Regions from separate parts of the Homo sapiens genome. Here regions 2, 3 and 4 are each linked to region 1. The links come from fine-mapping of genetic effects on gene expression. A gene starts in region 1. Each other region holds a variant in brackets. All regions are shown on one strand. Distances are between the middles of the regions.

The links. PIP is the estimated chance that this variant, and not a neighbour inherited with it, causes the effect. A credible set is the group of variants that fine-mapping cannot tell apart.
Region 2: its variant is the best candidate, but not a certain one, in a credible set for the expression of AACS in hypothalamus (GTEx, PIP 0.76).
Region 3: its variant is the best candidate, but not a certain one, in a credible set for the expression of AACS in whole blood (TOPMed, PIP 0.66).
Region 4: its variant is the best candidate, but not a certain one, in a credible set for the expression of AACS in skeletal muscle (GTEx, PIP 0.58).

Annotation. Positions count from the first base shown.
Region 1 is chr12:125,062,984-125,068,130 of GRCh38, forward strand. It overlaps AACS (acetoacetyl-CoA synthetase), which reads left to right and starts at 2,452. Exons shown (of 18, transcript NM_023928.5): 1 at 2,452-2,734. The coding sequence starts at 2,602. LOC105370052 (a long non-coding RNA gene) reads right to left here. Exons shown (of 4, transcript XR_001749365.2): 3 at 2,020-2,127. RefSeq lists a silencer at 2,093-2,712.
Region 2 is chr12:125,133,376-125,138,522 of GRCh38, forward strand. AACS (acetoacetyl-CoA synthetase) reads left to right here. Exons shown (of 18, transcript NM_023928.5): 15 at 628-697; 16 at 1,419-1,477; 17 at 3,287-3,489. Among named protein-coding and RNA genes, the nearest start is that of TMEM132B, 50 kb to the right of the region's middle. RefSeq lists an enhancer at 1-517. The variant C/T (reference allele first, on the strand shown) is at 1,962.
Region 3 is chr12:125,105,650-125,110,796 of GRCh38, forward strand. AACS (acetoacetyl-CoA synthetase) reads left to right here. Exons shown (of 18, transcript NM_023928.5): 8 at 1,472-1,619. Among named protein-coding and RNA genes, the nearest start is that of AACS, 43 kb to the left of the region's middle. RefSeq lists an enhancer at 1-183. The variant G/A (reference allele first, on the strand shown) is at 3,123.
Region 4 is chr12:125,141,315-125,146,461 of GRCh38, forward strand. AACS (acetoacetyl-CoA synthetase) reads left to right here. Exons shown (of 18, transcript NM_023928.5): 18 at 778-2,002. The coding sequence ends at 915. Among named protein-coding and RNA genes, the nearest start is that of TMEM132B, 42 kb to the right of the region's middle. RefSeq lists an enhancer at 1,793-2,367. The variant T/C (reference allele first, on the strand shown) is at 2,172.

The sequences.
Region 1 (5,147 bases):
TTCCCAGCAATTTGGAACTTTCCTTTTGATTTGATCAAGTCAGATATAGTTGATCAAACCCAATGGGAAAAGACCAAAGCAACAACAAAAACAGAGACAAACAAGCAACCAAAAAAGCATTTAAGCCAAACAAAAAATGGCACAACTTATATGATCACTGAGCACGCTCTAATGGTAAGGATAAATTAATGTTAGAGGAAAGCGGTCCCGATCCAGACCCCAAGAGAGGGTTTTTGGATCTCACGCAATAAAGAATTCAAGGCGAGTCTACAGACTAAAGCAAATGCAAGTTCCTTAGGAAAGTAGAGGAATAAAAAGATGGCTACTCCATAGACAGAGCACCCTGAGGGGTGCTGGTTGCCCATTCTCATGGTTATTTCTTGATGATATGCTAAACAAGGGGTGGACTATTCATGCCTCCCCTTTTTAGACCATATAGAGTAACTTCCTGACATTGCCATGGCATTTGTAAACTGTCATGGTGCTGATGGGAGTGTAGTAGTGAAGTCAAGCAGAGGTCACTCTCATCACCACCTTGGTTTTGGTAGGATTTAGCCGGCTTTTTTACTGCAGCGTGTTTTATCAGCAAGGTGTTTATGACTTGTATTTTGTGCCGACCTCCTGTCTCATCCTGTGACTTAGAATGCCTTCACTGTCTGGGAATGGAGCCTAGTAGATCTCAGCCTCATTTTACCCAGCCCCCACTCAAGATGGAGTTGCTCTGGTTCAAATGCCTCTGACATTAAGACCAGCTGGCTGTTAACCTTAACTTTAGCCAAGACAAACCCCAATTCAGTTACTTACCTAGGGATGGGTCTTAGGCTGTAGACTGCTCTCTACCATTCTAGAAGCAGGAAAAAAGACCTCATCTTCCCTGTTGGAAGCGAGCTCAAACTCCATAAAGGAGTTACCTGCCTTCCATTGTCATGGAAGCAGGAAACCTTGCCTTCCTTGTTGGAAGCAAGTAAAACTGCAAAGAAAAGAGTTGTACAGCAAAATAAACTTTAGATCTCCACCAAATTTTGGGAGATCAGGGAGGCTCTGGAGGGGGTGCTCTCAGACCTGGGCTCACTCTTGTAATCCCAGCACTTTGGGAGGCCGAGGCGGGTGGATCACCTGAGGTCAGGACTTCAAGACCAGCCTGGCCAACATGGTGAAATCCCGTCTCTACAAAAATGCAAAAATGAGCCGGGCTCGGTAGCTCACGCCTGTAATTCCAGCACTTTGGGAGGCTGAGGCGGGCGGATCACCTGAGGCCGGGAGTTGGAGACCAGCCTGACCAACATGGAAAAACCCTGTCTGTACTAAAAATACAAAATTAGCCAGGCGTGGTGGCACATGCCTGTAATCCCAGGTACTCGAGAGGCTGAGGCAGGAGAATTGCTTTAACCTGGGAGATGGAGGTTGCCGTGTGCCGAGATCTCGCAATTGCACTCCAGCCTGGGTAACAAGAGCGAAACTTCGTCTCAAAAAAACAAAACAAACAACAACAACAACAAAAAAAAAAACACGAAAAATTAGCTGGGCATGATGGCGTGTGCCTGTAATCCCAGCTACTCAGGAGGCTGAGGCAGGAGAATCGCTTGAACCTGGGAAGCAGAGGTTACAGTGAGCTGAGATTGGGACATTGCACTCCAGCCTGGGCGACTGAGTGAGACTCAAAAAAAAAAAAAAAGCTAAGGCGGGGAGGGGGCCTTCCAGGTCATAGGTAGATAAGGGACAAATGGCTGCATTCTTTTGAGTTTTCAATTAGCCTCTGCAAAGGAGGCAATCAGGTGTGCATTTAACTCAGCAGAGGGGTGACTTTGAATAGAATGGAGGCAGGTTAGCCCTAAGCAGTTCCCAGCTTTTCTTTTCCCTTTAGCTTAGTAGTGGGGCCCCAAGATTTATTTTCCTTTCACAAATGTGTATTTTGATACCCATTGGCATACTATGTATATTATTGTATTATACTATGACATTATCTTGTGTATGTACACGATGTACTTATTTGTTAATCGTCTCCCGTCTTCCTCACACCTGTACCCCTCCTCTCCTGTTGACAGAGAACAAGAATTTTGTTTTGTTCGCTGCTGTATCCGCAAAGCTCCCAAAGTCCTCCGAATGCCGCAGGCTCTCAGTAAAGACCTGCAGGAAGAAATAGCGAATGAATGATGTACACGTGTAGGAAACAGCGGGCTCGGACGCCTGGCTTCTCCGGCTGCCCTAACGCCCTCCAGCTCCAGGTGAGGTCGGGGAGCTGGGGCCAAGGCTCGTGAGCGCCCCTCACCCCCACGCCCCCCGGCCGCGGGCGCTGGAGCCGGCGGCTGCGAGCACTCCTTTGAGCGGCGCTGCACTCAGCGGAGGGTTACAGGCGGGAGGGCGGGGCCTGGAAGGGGGCGGGGATTCGAGGCGGGGCCTGCGGGGCGGGGCCTGGGCCAAGCGGCCCGCAGGAGGCGGCGGCGGCCGTTCAGTCCCTTGTTCCCCGCCGCCGCCGTCGCTGACCCAGCCCGCCAGGCGCTCCTGACCGTCGCTTCCTCCGGTCCCAGGTCCCCGGCCCTCGCCTCAGCCCCGGCCCCTGGTCCCCAGCCCTCGTCGCAGCCCCGGCCGCCCGCCGCCGCCATGTCCAAGGAGGAGCGCCCCGGTCGGGAGGAGATCCTGGAGTGCCAGGTGATGTGGGAGCCTGACAGTAAGAAGAACACGCAGATGGACCGCTTCCGGGCGGCTGTGGGCGCCGCCTGCGGCCTGGCGCTGGGTGAGAGTCGGGCGCGCGGCCGGGCCTGCGGGGGATGGGCGGGAGCCGTGCAGGGTGGTTGGGTGGTCTCCCCATGGCTAGTTTCACGCTTCTGGGGCTGGAGGAGCCACTTGATGGCGGGGAGGCCTTCTGACTGCGGGGTTCCCCCCAGTCTTGGGGAACATCACCCCTCCACAGCACCTCCTGGCACTTCCTGACTCTGCAGCGTCTCCTCTGCATGTGGGGGTCACCCTCTCCCCGGGAGTGTCACCCCTCGGGAGGGCCAGCTGCCTGTTGACCGTGTGACCCCTTGCTAGGCTTTCCTACCTGTGAGGTGCTCCCTGGAGTCTTGACCTCCGGCCTGTGGGGGCTTCCCCCGGACATAGGGCCTTTTTGACTTGCAGCTCTTCCTCTGTTTGTGGGGGTCCCTTGCCAGTCCCCAGTGCCGTGCACTCTGTCCCCCTGACCTCCCTCATCTCCAGCTGCCCCTGCTGGAGGCCAGCACCTAGCAGGATGGTCAGGCAGGAGGCCCTGTCCACGTGTCTACACTCCCAGCCCCCAAACAGAACCTAGTAAAAGACTCTCTTTCCACCCATCACCTTGAACCTCAGAAACTGCCTCTCTCGGTGCGGGTGGGGCAAAGGCTCCTTCTCCGTGGGGTAACCGCTCCGGGTGCTCTTCCTGAGCTCTAGCTGGCTTGCCCAACTACCAGCTCCACCCCTCCACCCTGCCTCCCCTAGGTATTCCTAGGGGATTTTTTTTTTTTTTTTTTGAGACAGTTTCTCTCTCGTTGCCCAGGCTGGAGTGCAATGGCGAGATCTCGGCACACTGCAACCTCCGCCTCCCGGGTTCAAGTGATTCTCCTGCCTCAGCCTCCCGAGTAGCTGGGATTACAGGCATACACCACCACGCCTGGCTAATTTTGTATTTTTAGTAGAGACGGAGTTTCTCCATGTTGGTCAGGCTGGTCTCGAACTCCTGACCTCAGGTGATCCGATCGCCTTGGCCTCCCAAAGTGCTGGGATTACAGGTGTGAGCCACGGCGCCTGGCCTCCTAGGGGATTTTTAACTCATGGTCTCCCCTCCTCACCCCCTCCGCTGGCGCAGGGACTCCCTTGTTTCTGTTGGTGGCGTCACTGTTCTTGCTCAGGCTCACAGGGATGGACACCCCAGTCACCTGTGGCACCAGAAGTCTTCTGCCACAGCCCCATGTCGCTCACATCTCCTCCTTTGCAGCCCCTTGTCAGGGGTTCTGGGGCCTCCTTTCCTCCTCACCAAACAGTGGTTGGTTTTCCTGCTTCCTGCTTTTCCATCCATTTGCATCCTGCTTGCTTTGCCAGAGTAATCTTGAAGCATACAGGTCTTACTTTGTCACTCCTTGGCTCAGAAGTTCTCAGTGGTTCCTTGTTGACCACAAAATTGCAGACGGCTGCCTGGCAGCTTCCAGGCCCTCCACAGCAGTGGGGAGCTTCCACAGAGTCATTTTCCTAGGCTAACCCAGAGCTGTTCCTCTCCTTCCCTTCCTCTCCCTTGGAGACAGGTGTAGTCTGTTGCCCCAGGGGCTTCTGGACAGCAGTTGGTAAATGAGTATGTGTTGGATTAGGGCAGCCTGGAGACTCCTGGAAGAAGCAGGAGGCTGCCATGTGGGATTATGTTCTTCCTCTGTGTCACCTTGCCTTGATTCCATCTGTTTCCTCTGCCAGCAATAACAGAATGCTGGTCTGGTGCCTGTCTAGCCCTGATGTTATGAAATAATTTCAGATCGGGCAGCCCTATTAGATGGGTGAAACCACCTTCCTCCGTGGGAAGTGTTGAAGAGAAGGGATTTGTAATCTGACTATCTGGATTTTTTTTTTTTTTAAGCCTCGCTTTTCTCCCCCAGGCTGGAGTGCGACGGCGCAATCTCGGCTCATTGCAACCTCTGCCTCCTGGGTTCACGCAGTTCTCCTGCCTCAGCCTCCCGAGTAGCTGGGATTACAGGTGCCTGCCACTATGCCCGGCTAATTTTTGTATTTTTAGTAGAGACGGGGTTTCACCATGTAGGCCAGGCTGGTCTAGAACTCCTGACCTCAGGTGATCCACCTGCCTCGGCCTCCCAAAGTGCTGGGATTACAGGTGTGAGCCACCGTGCTCGGCCGACTACCTGGGTTTTGAACTAGCTCTACCACTTACCAGCTGTGTGATCAGGAGGAAGTCATTGGATCTCTTCATGCCTTGTTTCCTCATCTGTAAAATGGGCATAACAGGACCTGAGTCATTGAGTGGGTGTGCAGGTGACAGGAGATGGTCAAGCCCAGTGCTCAGCTCTGCCCTGGGTCCCTGGGGTTGTGGAGTAAACATGAGCAAGTGCTGGGAGGGCCCGAGCATGGCTGCGGAGCTCCTTTCCCTCCTTCAGGGCTCTCAGACTGGTGGCCCATGGGCCAGGTCTCATCTC
Region 2 (5,147 bases), 70 kb after region 1:
ACAGCTGCACATGAGGCCACTCACGTGGCCTGCTGACACTGTGTTGCTGTCATCCCTGGCTCTTTCCTCTTCCCCGTCTCCTCATCCCCTGGGTTTTACCTGCTAATCGGCTCTCTGTCCATGTGGCTAATGTTTTGGTTCAAGCCTACATGACTCGGACTGGTGCAGTAGCCTCCTTCCTGGTCACGAGCACGTGTATTCCATTCCAAGATCTGGCCCCAACCTCTGCACACCCTGTGCCCTCCACTGCCCCTGGCCACTCTTGCTTCCCAAGACATGGCTTATTCTTTCCTGTGCTACACTCAGGGTTGTCTCCAGACACTCCTGTTGACCCCCAGTGGCCTGGCCGAGCTTGGTCCTGCCCTCTGTGAATTCCCGGGTCCTTGCTGGTGCCTGAGGAGCTGCGTTCCTCCTCGCCGGCGGTGTCAGAGCTGCCCGGGCAGCAGCCCCGCTAGAGGGCATGTTCCTTGGGGCAGGAACTGTCTGGCTCCCTCTGGCCCCCAGCCCCATGCCAGACCTGCCTCTGGGCCCCAGTGATGTCTGCGGACCTACACCCAGCGTCTGTCCAGGCAGCCTGTCATGGCCCCTTCTCCTCGGGATGACCGGGCACCTCTGCTGTCTTTGCAGGTATCTGGGCTCATGGCGACTACTGCAGAATCAACCCCAAGACCGGGGGCATCGTCATGCTTGGCCGGAGGTAAGGGCTGCAGAGTCGGCTTCTCTTTCCTGGAGCCCCACCTTCCAGAGGCATGGGGGTGGGAGAGGAGGTGCTTTCTATAAAAGTCAGTGACCCCCTTCCTGGGCACCTCACTCCACTCCAGCACCAGGGTGTCCACACCACCCACACCTCTGCTGGTGTCTGGGACCCCCCAGCCCCCACCGGCTGGTGCGCCATGTTTCCCCACCCCTGTGCCTGTGCACACACCATCCCTGGGCCTGAAGACCCCCTCTGAGGAAGCATTGTCTGCTCAGTCTGCAACATGGCTGACTGTCCCTCATCTTGGACCCTTCCTGTGTCATTCCTGGGGTGGCGCATCCCTGTGCCAGCTTCCTTCCCGAGGGATGGGTCTGGGCGTGATCCAAGTCTCCCTGCCCTGTGATGGGGTTCTCGGGTAGGGAGTGTCAGGATGGGGGTTCCACAGCAAAGGCACAGCAGTGTCCACACCTGCAATGGGGGACACGTGTGCAGGTGGGAAGGCAGTGAGGTGACAGATGTTCCTGCCTCCCTCGATGGAAAGCTTTAACCTGAGAGGGAGAAAGAGCCGGGTGGTAGGGCAAGGAGCTGGGGAGCGGAGTGTCCGTGACTAGTCCTGGGGGATGCCATGGGAAAGTGGGGGGTGACTGCCCTCCCGTGGGACCCCTGGGACTTGCTTCACTCCAGAGCTGCGGTGTGGCCCTGACCTCTTCTCTCTTTCCAGTGACGGCACCCTCAACCCCAACGGGGTGCGGTTCGGCAGCTCGGAAATCTATAACATTGGTACGTGCTTCCCCTCCCTGAGCGTTCTCCAGTCTCCAGGAAGGAGGAGGGTCCTGGCGGGAGCCCCAGGAGCCCCACCTTTGGCACAACTCTGGCCCCTTGTTCTCTGGTGTGACAGTGGACATTTGTGAGCCTGACCTCCTTTCCAGAACATACCTTGCCCACACTGCCATCCTCATAAAACCTCAAATGGGGTCTTTAAGGTCCCTTTGCCCATCCTCTTCCTCATTATAGCTCATCCTCCCGGTGAGCTCTGCTGGGCTGGTTACTTGTGTCTATCTACTCTTTTTTTTTTTTTTGGAGACAGAGTCTCGCTGTGTCACCCAGGCTGGAGCGCGATCTTGGCTCACTGCAACCTCTGCCTCCTCAGTAGCTGGGATGATAGACATGCACCACCATGCCCAGCTAGTTTTTGTATTTTTAGTAGAGATGGGGTTTCACCGTGTTGGCCAGGCTGGTCTCGAACTCCTGACCTCAAGTGATC[C/T]GCCTGCCTCGGCCTCCCAAAGTGCTGGGATTACAGGCATGAGCCACCACGCCCGGCCAACTTGTGTCTACTCTTTATGGTTGAAGAAACCAGAAGCACAGAGAGGGTTCAGGATTGCTGAAGGTCACACAGCATCATGCAGGACACCAAGCACAGAGAGTGTAGGCCTGTGGATCTCACAACTGTACAGTGGAGTCACCTGTGGGCCTTCAAACTTCCCAGCCCAGGGACCCAGACCCAGCCCAGGCCGCAGAGTTGGTCAGATGGCCTCTTATGCTAGTGCTTAGGTCAGAGTCCTAAACTTATGTCAAGGTCGTTTGTGTGGCCAGGGTAGAGAAATCCCGATGTCTGATTCCAGCCTTTTTTCCTCACTCCAGTGGAGTCCCCACCACAGGCACCTGCTTTCTTTTTTAAAAAAATTTTTTTTTGAGACAGGGTCTTACTCTCTTCACAGGCTGGAGTGCAATAGTGTGATCTCAGCTCACTGCAACCTCCGCCTCCTGGGCTCAAGCAATCCTCTCACCTCAGCCTCCTGAGTAGCTGGGTCTACAGGCGTGCACCACCATGCCCAGCTAATTTTTGTATTTTTTGTAGAGATGAGGTTTTGCCATGTTGGCCAGGCTGGTCTCAAACTCCTGAGCTCAAGTAATCAACCCACTTCGGCCTCCCAAAGTGCTGGAATTACAGGTGTGAGCCACTGTGCCCGGCCACCTGCCTCCTTTTTTGGGAGGCCGACAGGGTCTCACTCTGTTGGCCAGGCTGGGGGGCAGTGGCGCCATCATAACTCACTGTAGCCTCGACCTCCTGGGCTCAGGCGATCCTCCTGCCTCAGCTTCCCGAGTAGCTGTGTCTCCAGGTGTGTGTCACCATGCCTAACTTAGGTTTTGATTTTTCGTAGAGACAAAGTCTCCCTATGTTGTCCAGGCTGGTCTCAATCTCCTGGACTTAAGTGATCCTCTCACCTCAGCCTCCCAGAGTGCTGGGATTATAGGCGTGAGCCACCATGCCCGGCCCTCTTTTTTATCTTGAATTAATTTCTCATTAAGTAAGGCCCACACCTGGCTTCCTGGTAGAACATCACCCATCCTGCCAAACCTGAAGCTCTCTCTGCCTCCCCAGTGATGGGTTTTCTTCCGCTTGTGAAACGGCCTCCTCAGCAAATGTCCCTCCAAGGCCCTTCTCCTGGGTGGACTGGGAGAACACAGGCACCGCTGGAAGGCTTGGGGGACCCAGCCTGCCCCTCCTGCTCTGCCAGGTTGCTGTGAGGCCCGACCCCACACTGAGGGGCCCCCTGCGTGAATGTGCACCCTCTCCTGTCTCCACAGTGGAATCCTTCGAGGAGGTGGAGGACAGCCTGTGTGTCCCCCAGTATAACAAGTACAGGGAGGAGAGGGTGATCCTCTTCCTGAAGATGGCCTCCGGGCACGCCTTCCAGCCTGACTTGGTTAAGAGGATCCGTGACGCCATCCGCATGGGCTTGTCTGCGCGACACGTGCCCAGCCTCATCCTGGAAACCAAGGGCATCCCGGTATGGCCATCTCCCGCCAGCGAGGAGACCGCAGCCATCGCCCCACGAGCCCACACATTGAGGGGCGCTTACATCTGAGCAGCTTGCCGGTGCTTTATATATCGTTTGTCCACGTTGCCTAGCAACGCCATCCTCTCCCTGCCATCCTTTTTCCTACCCTTCCTAAGACTGCATTTAAAGCAACTTCTGCTAAATACCCATGTTCAGAGGGTTAGCAGGCCCAGCCCTGCAGGTCCAACTGGCTTCTCCCTGCTATCCCCTGGTTTTAGTGTATTCTCAAAATTTTTAATGAGAACATTAATTTTAACTTTTTATTTTTTATTTTATTTTTTTGAGACTGAGTCTGTCACCCAGGCTGGAATGCAATGGCTCAATCTCAGCTCACTGCAACCTCCGCTTCCCAGGTTCAAGCAGTTCTCCTGCCTCAGCCTCCTGAGTTAACTGGTAGCTGGGATTACAGTCACATGCCAGCATGCCTGGCTAATTTTTGTATTCTTAGTAAAGATGGGGTTTTGCCATGTTGGCCAGGCTGGTTTCAAACTCCTGACCTCAAGTGATCCGCCCACCTCAGCCTCCCAAAGTGCTGGGATTACAGGCGTAAGCCACTCTACCCAGCCAATTTTAACTTTTTAAAGTGCTGCTGGGAGCCGTTGCTGTTGCCTTTTAGTTTTAAGTTCTGCTGGTACAGACAAGACTTGACTCTTTTTAGAGGCAGGTCTTCCTAAGGCTGTGTCGTCATCCCCCAGCCCCTGGCCCCAGTACGCTCTGCTTTGATTCTAAGTGGGGGAGGAGGAGGGTCACCCAAATTGGATCACAGCTTTCATTTGCATTGCTTACAAAACGGATACCCCGCAAGCTGACAGAAGCTGCTGTGTGTGTGTGAGTGTGTGTGTGTATGTGAATGTATACAACAATTTAGACAGTGGCAGGCTGTATTTGAAGCCTATGGAATGGCTATTCGTTAAGGAGAAGATGGGAGCACACACTCACTGGGTTCCCAGGGGAAGCTGACTTTGATGTTGCCCGGGAGCAGGGCTGATTCTGTGAGGTGTAACTAGAGACAGGATTTACCAGGAGAGTCTGCTTCCTGGAGAATGTTGAAATATCTGATGCCGTTTACTTTGAAACCCGTAGATCATTCTCTTTGCCTTAAAAGTTATTTCAACATCTTCAAAACAACCTGTCCAGGAGTGGGGGCTGGGGAGAGCGCTTGCAGCACGACAACGGTGTGCAATCCCTGATCATCCCTGGAAGACTGACTCCTACTCGGGACCCTGTTCCTCCTCCTCCCGGCGCCTGTCCACATCTGCGCTGACTCCCACTCGGGACCCCTGTCCCTCCTCCTCCCGGCGCCTGCCCGCATCTGCGGTGTTGGTTGCTTTTTGTGGTGTCCACACGTTTCCTTTGTGTTCTGGTTCTGCATGGGAAGAGCCCTGCAGCTTGGGGCTTTCCATCCATCTCTTTCTTTTTCCCTTATTTTTGGTTGGTGACTCTTGGCGGCTCTCTGTGGGGACACTGATGCTCTCCAAGAAGGTACTTCTTGAATCAGTGACCCTTATTGTCTTTTTCTGATGAGGGTCTAAGGTTTTCCTTCAGTGAATCAGTGCTGTCTTATCTGGAACATTTTAGGGAACTGGAATTTGCATTTATCCCCTTGG
Region 3 (5,147 bases), 43 kb after region 1:
GGGGCTGGACTCCCACTGCAGTCCATCCTTTGATTGTGGATGCCACAGATAAAGCAGAAACGGGTACGTGCCCATCTGTGGAGAATTGACGGGGCCGGGGGAGCCACCCTGTGGGCTTTTCATTCTTAGAAGAGCTTTAACAAAGGTAATCATTATGTACTGTGATTTATGGGCCATTTGACAGAAAAGGCTTTTCTCTGTGTGAAGTATCTGATTAGATCTGGCACTTTATAATGGGATTCTTATAGGAGGTAGAGGTGGGATGGGGTTTTCATTGGCTGTAAAGTTCCACAGTGAATAGTTTTCCTGACATGCTGGAGCAGACGGCTTTGTTTGTTTCTTGCTTAGAGTTGAATTATTTTGGATGCCCTTTTTAAACCACCATGTCTTCCCCAGGAGAAACCTTTATATTTAAGGATGCCTTCTCATGCAAGACAGCAAAATTCTTCATTTTAGTCTGTATGGCATTTGTATTTCAGAGTAATTATCCCTAGCAAATGGCTGCAGGCTGCGTTTAACTGATTCCCACCTCCTTCCCTGAGAGAAAGTCCATTTGTCAGTTGAGTATAGGGCCAATGTTTTGAGATGGATGTTGCTGCTGAATTCAAAATAGAAAACCACCTTTTCCCAAGATGGCTTGTGGCTTCTGCGGCTGTTTCTAGTGCAGAAAACAAATCTCCTGTTTGTGTCGCCCCTTTGGTGGTTCTTGGCCACCTACAACAATGCTGCCTGTCAGCTTTGGGGGTAAGCCTAGGCACACTTCCTGGGTGACAGTCAATAGCTGGGATTAATTTTATTTGTTCTTGCACAGATATTTGTATCTTGCTATTGTAAACCTCAGGATCTAGTAAGTTAGTGACAACACATGATATTTGCTGAGCGGTTCTCTGTCATTGAGCTGTAGTTTAGGAAATTGACCCCACATCTGTAGGAAGGGCTCATTAATCTAGCATCTCCTCCTCTCCCTTCTCCCCACGGGGGAAGCATCTTACTTCAGACCCACTTGGTGAGTGCTTCCTTTTGGGCAATCATTGGAAACAAAGCGTTTGCTAATCAGGTGATCAATAGCAAACAAAGGACATGGGCTCAGAAGACTTCAAGGCCATTTCCAAAGCCTCCTTCAGCCGTGTTGGTACACACATGGCTTGTTCATTGTAAGTGATCCTTCTCCGTGGTGGTTATGAAAACACTTAAAATATTCTCTAAAAGACAGCCCTTGGCCCTGTCAGCAGTGCTGATTAAGCAACTTGAAACCTTCACTCGTTCGATGAGTTTTCCTTCAATTAGCTTGAATCTCTGAGATCTAACTGCCTCCCCTGGTCCCAGGAAGTTTCCAAATCTGGCCACCGTCCCCCTGGAATCCTGGCTTTTCTGGGGGTAGAAACAGAGGGAAGTGCACGGGTGGAATCAGTGGGTCCGGTCCAGCATTCTGGGACGTTCATGGCGTGTTTCCCTGCGTTTCGGCCCACAGTGTGTTTCTGGATGACTTTCTTGCCACCGGCACCAGTGAGCAGGCCCCGCAGCTGGAGTTCGAGCAGCTGCCCTTCAGCCACCCACTGTTCATCATGTTCTCATCGGGCACCACGGGCGCACCCAAGTGCATGGTGCATTCCGCTGGGGTAGGTCTCTGGGGAAGGCTCTGCAGGGCCTCCTGTTGTCTGTTTGCTTCAACAGGGCCTCCCAGCTGATGATGGCAGTGTTGGAGTTGTCAAACTGCACCCCATCCCCGGAGAGTCCAACGTGCAGCTTCTCTCCAAGTGGGGTGCTGCACGGAGATCCGGCACTGGGCCCAGGGCAGTGGAGTGCTGCCACTTCAAAGGCTGGGATGGCACCTAACACCATGGCGATAGGCTTGGAGGTCACTGTACAGCGCGGTGTGCCTTGGGGGTGGGGGGTGCGCTGGCTGAACCAGCTACTTTCACCCTGCAGGTCTGGACCACCTGGGGGATTGTGAACTCAATAGGTGGGCCCTGCCAGTATTTTAAAAAGAACGAATCAGAATAGACAAGAATAGATAATATTAGCGCAGTGCCAGACGCAATGGCCCACACCTATAACCCCAGCACTTTGGGAACCTGAGGTGGGCAGATTGCTTTGAGCCCAGGAGTTTGAGACCAGCCTGGCCAATATAGCAAAACCCCATTTTTACTAAAAAATACAAAAATTAACTGGACGTGGTGGCACATGCCTGTAGTCTGAGCTACTCGGGAGGCTGAAGTGGGACAATTGCCTGAACCCAGGGGGCGGAGGTTGCAGTGAGCTGAGATCATGCCACTGCACTCCACCTGGCAACAGAGCCAGACTCTGTCTCAAAAAATAAAAATAAAATAAAATATTAGCACAGAATAGGCTCATAAGAGGTATGGGTGGTGTTCTGTGAAGCTGTCATTACATGGAGCGGAATGTGTGCACGTGCTGGGGGCGTTGTAAAACTTATGTCTGACCGTGGGTTGTGGTAAAATATTTGAAAGCCACTGGTTAGGTTATTAGAAGGCTAGGTTACTAGGTTATTAGGTTATTATTAGAGTCTAATTAACTGAGAAAGAGCCTGCCCGTGCTGCGAGTCTGTTAGGGCTGCCATAACGAAACACCACAGGCTGTGTGGAACACCAAGGTGCCGCACAGTTGCTCTTGTCTGAGGCCTCTCTCCTTGGCTTGTGGACGGCCGCCTTCTTGCTCTGTCCTCGTGTGATCTTTCACGTGACACCGCTGGTGTCTCTGTATGGGTCCAAGCTTCTTCTCCTGAGGACCCCAGTCAGATCGGATCTGGGCCTGCTCTGACAGCCTCATTTAAACTCTGTCACCTTTTAAAGGCCCATTTAGTCACATTCTGAGATACTAGGTATTGGGCTTCAACATACGAATTTTGGGGGTACACAGTTCAGCCCATGACACATGCTTTTAATTTTTCTTATTTCACCGAAAGTCTAACTTTATTAAAGCACCTGAAATAATATGTTACTACTATGCAATAGAATGTATATGTATAGGTTAGTGACTTTTAACCTGTTATTTTATTTTATTTTATTTTTTTTTGAGATGGAGTCTTGATCTGTCGCCCAGACTGGAGTGCAGTGGTGTAATCTTGGCTCACTGCAACCTCTGCCTCCTGGGCTTAAGCA[G/A]TCCTCCCCTCTCAGTCTCCCATGTAGCTGGGATTATAGGCGTGTGCCGCTATGCCCTACTCGTTTTTTTGTTTGTTTTGTATTTTTGTGGCTTTTTTTTTTTTTTTTTAAGACCGGGTTTTGGCATGTTACCCAAGCTGGACTCAAACCCCTAGGCTCATATATTCCACCTGCCTTGGCCTCCCAAAGTGCTGGGATTACAGATGTGAGCCACCCATGCTCAACCAAACCTTTTATTTTTGAAAAAAATAAAATACCTAGAGAACCTCTAGAAAAGCTGCAAGAATAGTAAGCTCCATGGTACCCTTCAGCTGAATTCTTCCATTGTTGACATTCTGTCTTTAACATTTTCAACGTCCTTTTGTTTTGTTTTGTTTTGAGATAGTTTCTCACTTTGTTGTCCAGGCTGGAGTGCAGTGGCGTGATCATGGCTCACTGCAACCTCTACCTCCTGGGCCCAAGCGATCCTCCCACCTCAGTCTTCCAAGTACCTTGGACTACAGGCACGTGCTACTTTTTTGTTTTTGTAGAGATGGGGTCTTGCTATGTTCCCCAGGCTGGTCATGAACTCTTGGGCTCAAGTGATCCTCTCGCCTTGGCCTCCTGAGTGCTGGAATTACAGGCATGAGCCACTGTGCCTGATGTCAACATCCATTTTTAACACGTCCTAAAAGCCTCTTTCGCCTTCTTTCTCTCTCAGCGTATATACACATGTTGTTATTTTGCTTTTTGTTGAACCAGTTGAGAGTACGTTGGAGCCACAATGATCTTTCACTCTTTAATATTTCAGCACGTATCTCCCAAGAACAGGAGCGTTCTCTTACAGAAGAGTGTGTAGCGCGCTCATCAAATTCAGGAAGGTTGGCGTTGGTGCAGTGCCGCCCCCTCATCTATGGTCCACAGTCAGGTCGCCAGTTCCCCAGTAGCGTCCTAGCAGCTCAGGCGGTGGCACGTCAGTCGTCAGGTCTCCTGCATGTCTGGAGCAGCTCCTTGGGCTTCTTCGTCTTCCGTGACACTGACATTTTCAAAGAGCCCAGGCTCCTGGTTTGGCAGAATGGCTCTGTTTGGGTATGTCTGGTGTCTCCTCGTGGTTAGGTCCAGGTGATGCAGCTTTGGTGGGAACACGCTGGAAATGATGTGGTGTTCTTCTCCGTGCATCTATCGGGGGGATACAACGTTAGTGTATTTCATTTCTGTGATTTCACTAGGCCACTCTTCAGAAATGAAATGCCTGGGTCAATGTGGTGCTTTGCTTTTTTTTTTTTGAGGTGGAGTCCCGGCACTGTCACCTGGGCTGGAGTGCAGTGGCTCAATGTTGGCTCACTGCAACCTCTGCCTCCCGGGTTCAAGCGATTCTTGTGCCTCAGCCTCCTGAGTAGCTGGGATTATAGGCGCCCGCGACCACGGCCGGCTAAGTTTGTGTGTGTGTGTGTGTGTGTGTGTGTGTGTGTGTGTGTGTGTGTGTGTGTGTGTGTGTGTTTAGTAGAGACGGGGTTTCACTATGTTGGCCAGGCTGGTCTCCAACTCCTGACCTCGTGATCCACCTTCCTTGGCCTCCCAAAGTGCTGGGATTACAGGCCTGAGCCGTCACGCCCAGCTGAATGTAGTGCTTTTCTAATAACTGCTATCACATCTTACTTCCTCTGATCCTCTTCTGCCCCTGGGCTTCCTGACTCGGTTGAATCCTTACCTTGCACTCAGACTTCTCCTGGGCCGGTCTGTGGGAGTCAGGATGCTTGCGACGCCGTGGCTCCCACCCTCACGCTGCTCTAGGCTCTCCTCTGGGCCAGCTCTTCAGCTCTCCCCATAGCTCATTTCCCCATTTCCCTATCAGTTGGCTCAGCCTATAGGGAGGAGAAAAATCCACTGTATCTTGGTCAAACCTTCTGATCACCACTTTTTCCCCCAAACTCAGAAGAAGAGAATTCTCCAAGTGGAGAAACCTTTGCTTGATAAGACAGTGGCATTTGAAAAGGAAATATACAAGTTCCCTTATTCTAGCTCACTTAGCTTTTATAGACGTTC
Region 4 (5,147 bases), 78 kb after region 1:
GCCCTCTCGAGGCCAGCTTGGATGTGACACGTGTCGTGGGTCCCAACGGGGCCCAGTAGAGTGTGCAGCGTTAGAAAAATGAACATGCTCGGCTGGGCGCGGTGGCTCACGCCTGTGATCCTAGCACTTTGGGAGGCCAAGATGGGTGGATCATGAGGTCAGGAGATCAAGACCATCCTGGCTAACATGAGACCATCCTGGTGAAACCCCATCTCTACTAAAAATACAAAAAATTAGCTGGGCGTGGTGGCAGGTGCCTATGGTCCCAGCTACTCAGGAGGCTGAGGTAGGAGAATGGTGTGAACCTGGGAGGGGGAGCTTGCAGTAAGCGGAGATTGCACCACTGCACTCCAGCCTGGGTGACAGAGTGCGACTCTGTCTCAAAAAAAAAAAAAAGAAAAAAAAAGAAAAAAAGAAAAATGAACATGCTCATGGTGACCTCTGGGCAACTTTGAAATAGCCTCAGTTTCTCAACAGCCGTGCCAGGGGGCGGGGGTGGGGTGTGGAGAGTGTTAGAGTTGAGTTTCAGCACCAGTCCTTGAAAGTGCCTTTCAGAAGAACAGGTTTTATCCCCCAAACAGAGAGACAGTGGTCAGTTCACCGTACTTCGGTGCACGTTTGCAGACCTGGTGGGAAGAGGGGCATCTTAGAGCCGAGACCCATTCACTCTTGGCACTCCAGGTGGAGCTGGGCCTTTGGGGCCTGGATATATCCAGGGCTGCGGATTTTCCCCCCTTCAGGTTTAAATGTTCCTGTTTTTCTACCTTTCCCTCGCAGTATACGCTCAACGGCAAGAAAGTGGAAGTTGCCGTCAAACAGATCATCGCTGGAAAAGCCGTGGAGCAAGGAGGTGCTTTCTCGAACCCCGAGACCCTGGATCTGTACCGGGACATCCCTGAGCTGCAGGGCTTCTGAGTCAGACTGGCTGGCGTGTCACTCAGCCGCACCCGTGTGCACTGTAACTTTTGTGTGCTCAAGAAATTATACAGAAACCTACAGCTGTTGTAAAAGGATGCTCGCACCAAGTGTTCTGTAGGCTTGGGGAGGGATCGTTTCTCTGTTTTGTTAAATCTGGTGGGTACCTGGATCTTCCACACGAGTGGGATTCTGGCCTTCAGAGACCAGGAGGGAGTGTCTGGGCCGCAGGTGTGGCACTGTGGTGAGAGTGTGTGTCTTTGCACACACAGTGCAGCGGGAACGGTGGGGCTGGCTGGTGCTGAAGACAGACACACTCCTGAGCCAAGGTCTTGTCTTCAACCTCCCCGTCCCGTTGTCCCATTTTGCTCTGTGAAGGTGCAAATCCCTTTCTTCCCTTCCCATCTCAGGCTCTCCTGTTTTCCCTCAGGGTCCAGTATGCCTTTGAGCTTTAGCTGTTAGAAAGGAACCCCCGTGACTTGACACAGCTTTCACAGCTGGCTGCTAGGACCGGCGGGCTGGGTGTTCACGTGTGTCTGTGTCATGGATGCAATGCAGGCCCTGGAGGACTGTGCGTCACCCGTCAACCAGAGCGTGCCTCCGGGCCAGCTTCCCTCCAAGGAATGAGTGGATTTCATACAGGATCTCTTTATTGCACAGACTGAATGGCTTTACATGTTTCTAATGTGAATTAGGCATGTGAAGCAGTGGGTGTCCACCCGTGTCCCTCATGGGTGAGCCCTCCAGCTGTGAGCCCAGGCAGTGTGGTCACCGAGTGAGGACCCTCCTCACCAGGAACCGCATCCCTGTGCTGCCTCCACCTGAGAGTTGCTAGGGGGTTCTTGTCGAGATCATGTCATCAGCACCCCTAAGTCAAGTCACGGGTTTCCATAGCCAGGCAGTTGGTATGTACAATTCAGTTCAGCGTATGAACTTGTATCTCTAATCTGATGTCCATTTTTATATTTTTTGAAACTGAGCACAATGAAATCCTTTCTTGAATCATTTTCCTTTTGGATTATAAAAATATGGGGGAAAGTGCTATGATGAATTTTATGCAATAAATGTATACATGTGTGCACATGCACCCATGCTGTGTGTGCAGTGTGCTGGTGTGTTTTCTCTGGAGGGGGGACCGCATCTGCGTGTGTGAGGCTGGTGGTGCTTGTGCGCCCGCCAACAGCTGTGCCCTGGAGTTGTGTGGTTCGAATTGTTGGGGGCACTTCCCAGGGCCCTGGTACTTACCCACATTCCCT[T/C]GTGACCAACGAGGAGTGCTGCTCAGTGTGAAGCCAGCACCCTGGGCCCCCTCCACCCTGAGATCCCCCAACACCCAGCGCCAGCCAGGTTTCTGGCTCCTTTCTTGTCATCGCAAGAGCTGCATGTCACTTGGGTTGTGTGTGGCTACATGCCACGGGATCCAGGCTTGGCCCAGCAGCGTTTATGGCTCTCACGTCACAGGAAGTTGGAGGCAGTCCATTCTCCCGGGGCCGGGCAGCAACTCCACAGTGCAGCAGTCCTGGCTCCTGTCTGCTGCACTCTGCTGTCCTCAGGATGTGGCAGTCATCATCTTGGCCCTGCCTGGCTGCCCCACCTCTAGTCTTTCATCCGTGCTGTAGGCAGGAAGAAGGTGGGAGTGAGAAGGGGGCTGGGTAAAGGCAAAAAGCTGCATCTCTGGAGTGTGTCCCTTTTTATCTGCAAAATGATGGCTTTTCTGGAAAGCCGGCAGCATCTGCTGGGCCTCACCAGCCAGCCTGGGGACACGCAGCCGCCTTCGCTGCAAGGGCATCCGGGGGTCTGAGTATTTCAAAGAGGACCTGTTCCCCTTTTTTGTGAGTTTCCAACAGCTGCTGTAACATTTCCACAAAGGCAGTGGCTTAACACAGCCCCAGTTTATTACAGTCCTGGAGGTCAGAAGTCTGCTGTGGGTCTCACTGGGCTGAAATCAGGGTGACAGCAGGGCTGTGTTCCTTCAGGAATCTGCAGGGGAGAATCCATTTCCTTGCCTTCTCCCGCTTCTAGAGGCCACTGTGTTTCTTGTCTGGTGCCCTGTTGTCTTCAGCAATGGCCGGTCACACCTTCCTTCCACTGTAGCTCTCTGACGCTGACACTCCCACCCACCGTGTCCACATGTAAGAACCCCCTGTGATTGCAGCAGGCCCACTTGAATAAGGATAATCTCCCTATTTTGATGTGTGCTGATTAACAACCTTAATTCCATCTGCAGCCCTCACTCCTCCTCACGACGTCGTAGTCCATTTTGTTTTGCTGTAACAGAATACCTGAAGCTGGGTGATTTATAAGTTAATAATTTATTAAGGGGTTCATTTGGTTCATGATTCTGGTGGCTGAAAAGTCCAAGACTGGGCAGCTGCATCTGGTGAGGGCCTCATGCTGCTTCCACTCAGGGCAGAACATGGAGGGGGAGCAGGTGCATGCAGAGATCACGCAGTGAGAGAGGAAACCAGACCATTCAACAACCACGCCCTTGGGAACTAATCTGTTCTCACGAGGCACAAGTGACGGTGAGAACTCACCCCCTACAGAGGGGATTAATGTATTCAGGAGGGATCTGACCCCTCCCAACACTGCTACATTGGGTGTCAATGTCAACATGAGTTTTGGCATATAGACAAGCCACATCCAACCCACAGCACCATGTAACCTAACGCATTCACAGGTTCCAAGGATTAGGATGTGGATATCTTTGGGGGGCTGCTACTCTGCTGACCTCACTTTGCAAACACAGTCTGGGTCCTGCTGGCCGAGGGAGAAGTGGATGGTGGTTGTTGGGAGCAGCAGGGAGCCCTGGTTGATGACACTTGGGCTGGGATTGTCCTCCCCTGTGAGTGGCCCGTGGGCCTTAGGGTTCAGGTCGGGCCTGGGGCCTGCAAGGTCCTCTCCTCTCACTGGGTGCCTGGAGATTCCCTTCATGTTGACAGTGCCTGAGGAGTCATTACAGCTTAATCAGCGTGCCCTTTAGTTCCAGCAAGACGGCCCAGGCTGAATAAGCCCACGCATCCTTATTAATAAGCCCTGCCGGACAACTTCATTAATGAGGGACAGATGGTCTGGAACAACAGCCAGTTGAGTGCACGTGGTGCTGAGCCTGCTTTTGACGTTCCTTGGCCCGAGCATCACTCTAAAGAACCCACCACCTGCCGGCCAGCTGCCTTTTCATCTCTGAGATGGCCGTGGGCTGCACCGTGCCTTCTCGTCTTCTTCCAGCTCCCCACCAGGCCTGGCCCATCAGGAGCTTCTGAAGGCATCAGGATCTGCCACACAGCCTGGCTAGGGCTGCCAGGATTCTGCTATCTCCCACGGCCAGCAGGCCTCTGAGCAGCTGGTCCTCCTCCAGGCCCTTCCTGCCCACCTCCAGGAACCTTCTCCAGGCTGGAGGCCTCCTTCTCATGCTTGGGCTGCCCAGCCCCACCTTCTCGCCCGGGAGGATTCTCCTCAACTGGAGCTGAACGATCAACTCCAGCTGCAGTCAGCCACTGACCTGTCCCCACAGGGGCATCTGAGCCCTCTAGGATAGGGCCCAGGTTGGCTCACTCATCTGTTTCCCAAACAGAAGGCCTGAAACCCACACGCCTTAGAAAAGGCATCCTCCTGATGTCGTACCACCCCTGTCACCATGGCTGTAGGTGAACAGAAGAGCCCCTTCCCTCGAGTCTGCAAATGCCCAGGAGAAGGGCTCATGGGGAACAACACTCCCTTTGAGGACCCAGCCACAACCTATCCTGTGATGGGCTCAAGCCTTCAGAGGGAATGTCACATGCAGCTTTATGGGGGATAATCTGTCACTGGGTTCAAGCTGGGCTGCTCTAACAGGTGCCCCCAAATCTGGCTCAATCCGGAATGTGTCTTCTCTCCTGTCACCGCTCTGAGGTGAATGGGTAGGCCAGGGCGGGTAGGTAGCTTTGTTTTGCAAGGTCACCCAAGGACCTGGGCTTCCAAATGGTTGCTGCCTCCCCTGGTGTGCAGGTCTTGTCCACTTGGAAGATGTTGGCTCACCACAGTCATGGAGGAGGTGACCTAACATTCACCCTCACCCCCTTGGCCACAACCTTGTCACCTGACTGCACTCAGCTGTGTAGGAGGCGGGGAGATGTGCTGCCCAGCAGGGTGACAGGTGCCCTCCCAGAACTCTAGTGGTGGGTGCAGATGGCTCTGTGACAAGGAAGGGTGGGGAATGGTGATGGGGGACAGTCGCAGCCCCTCCCACAGGAATG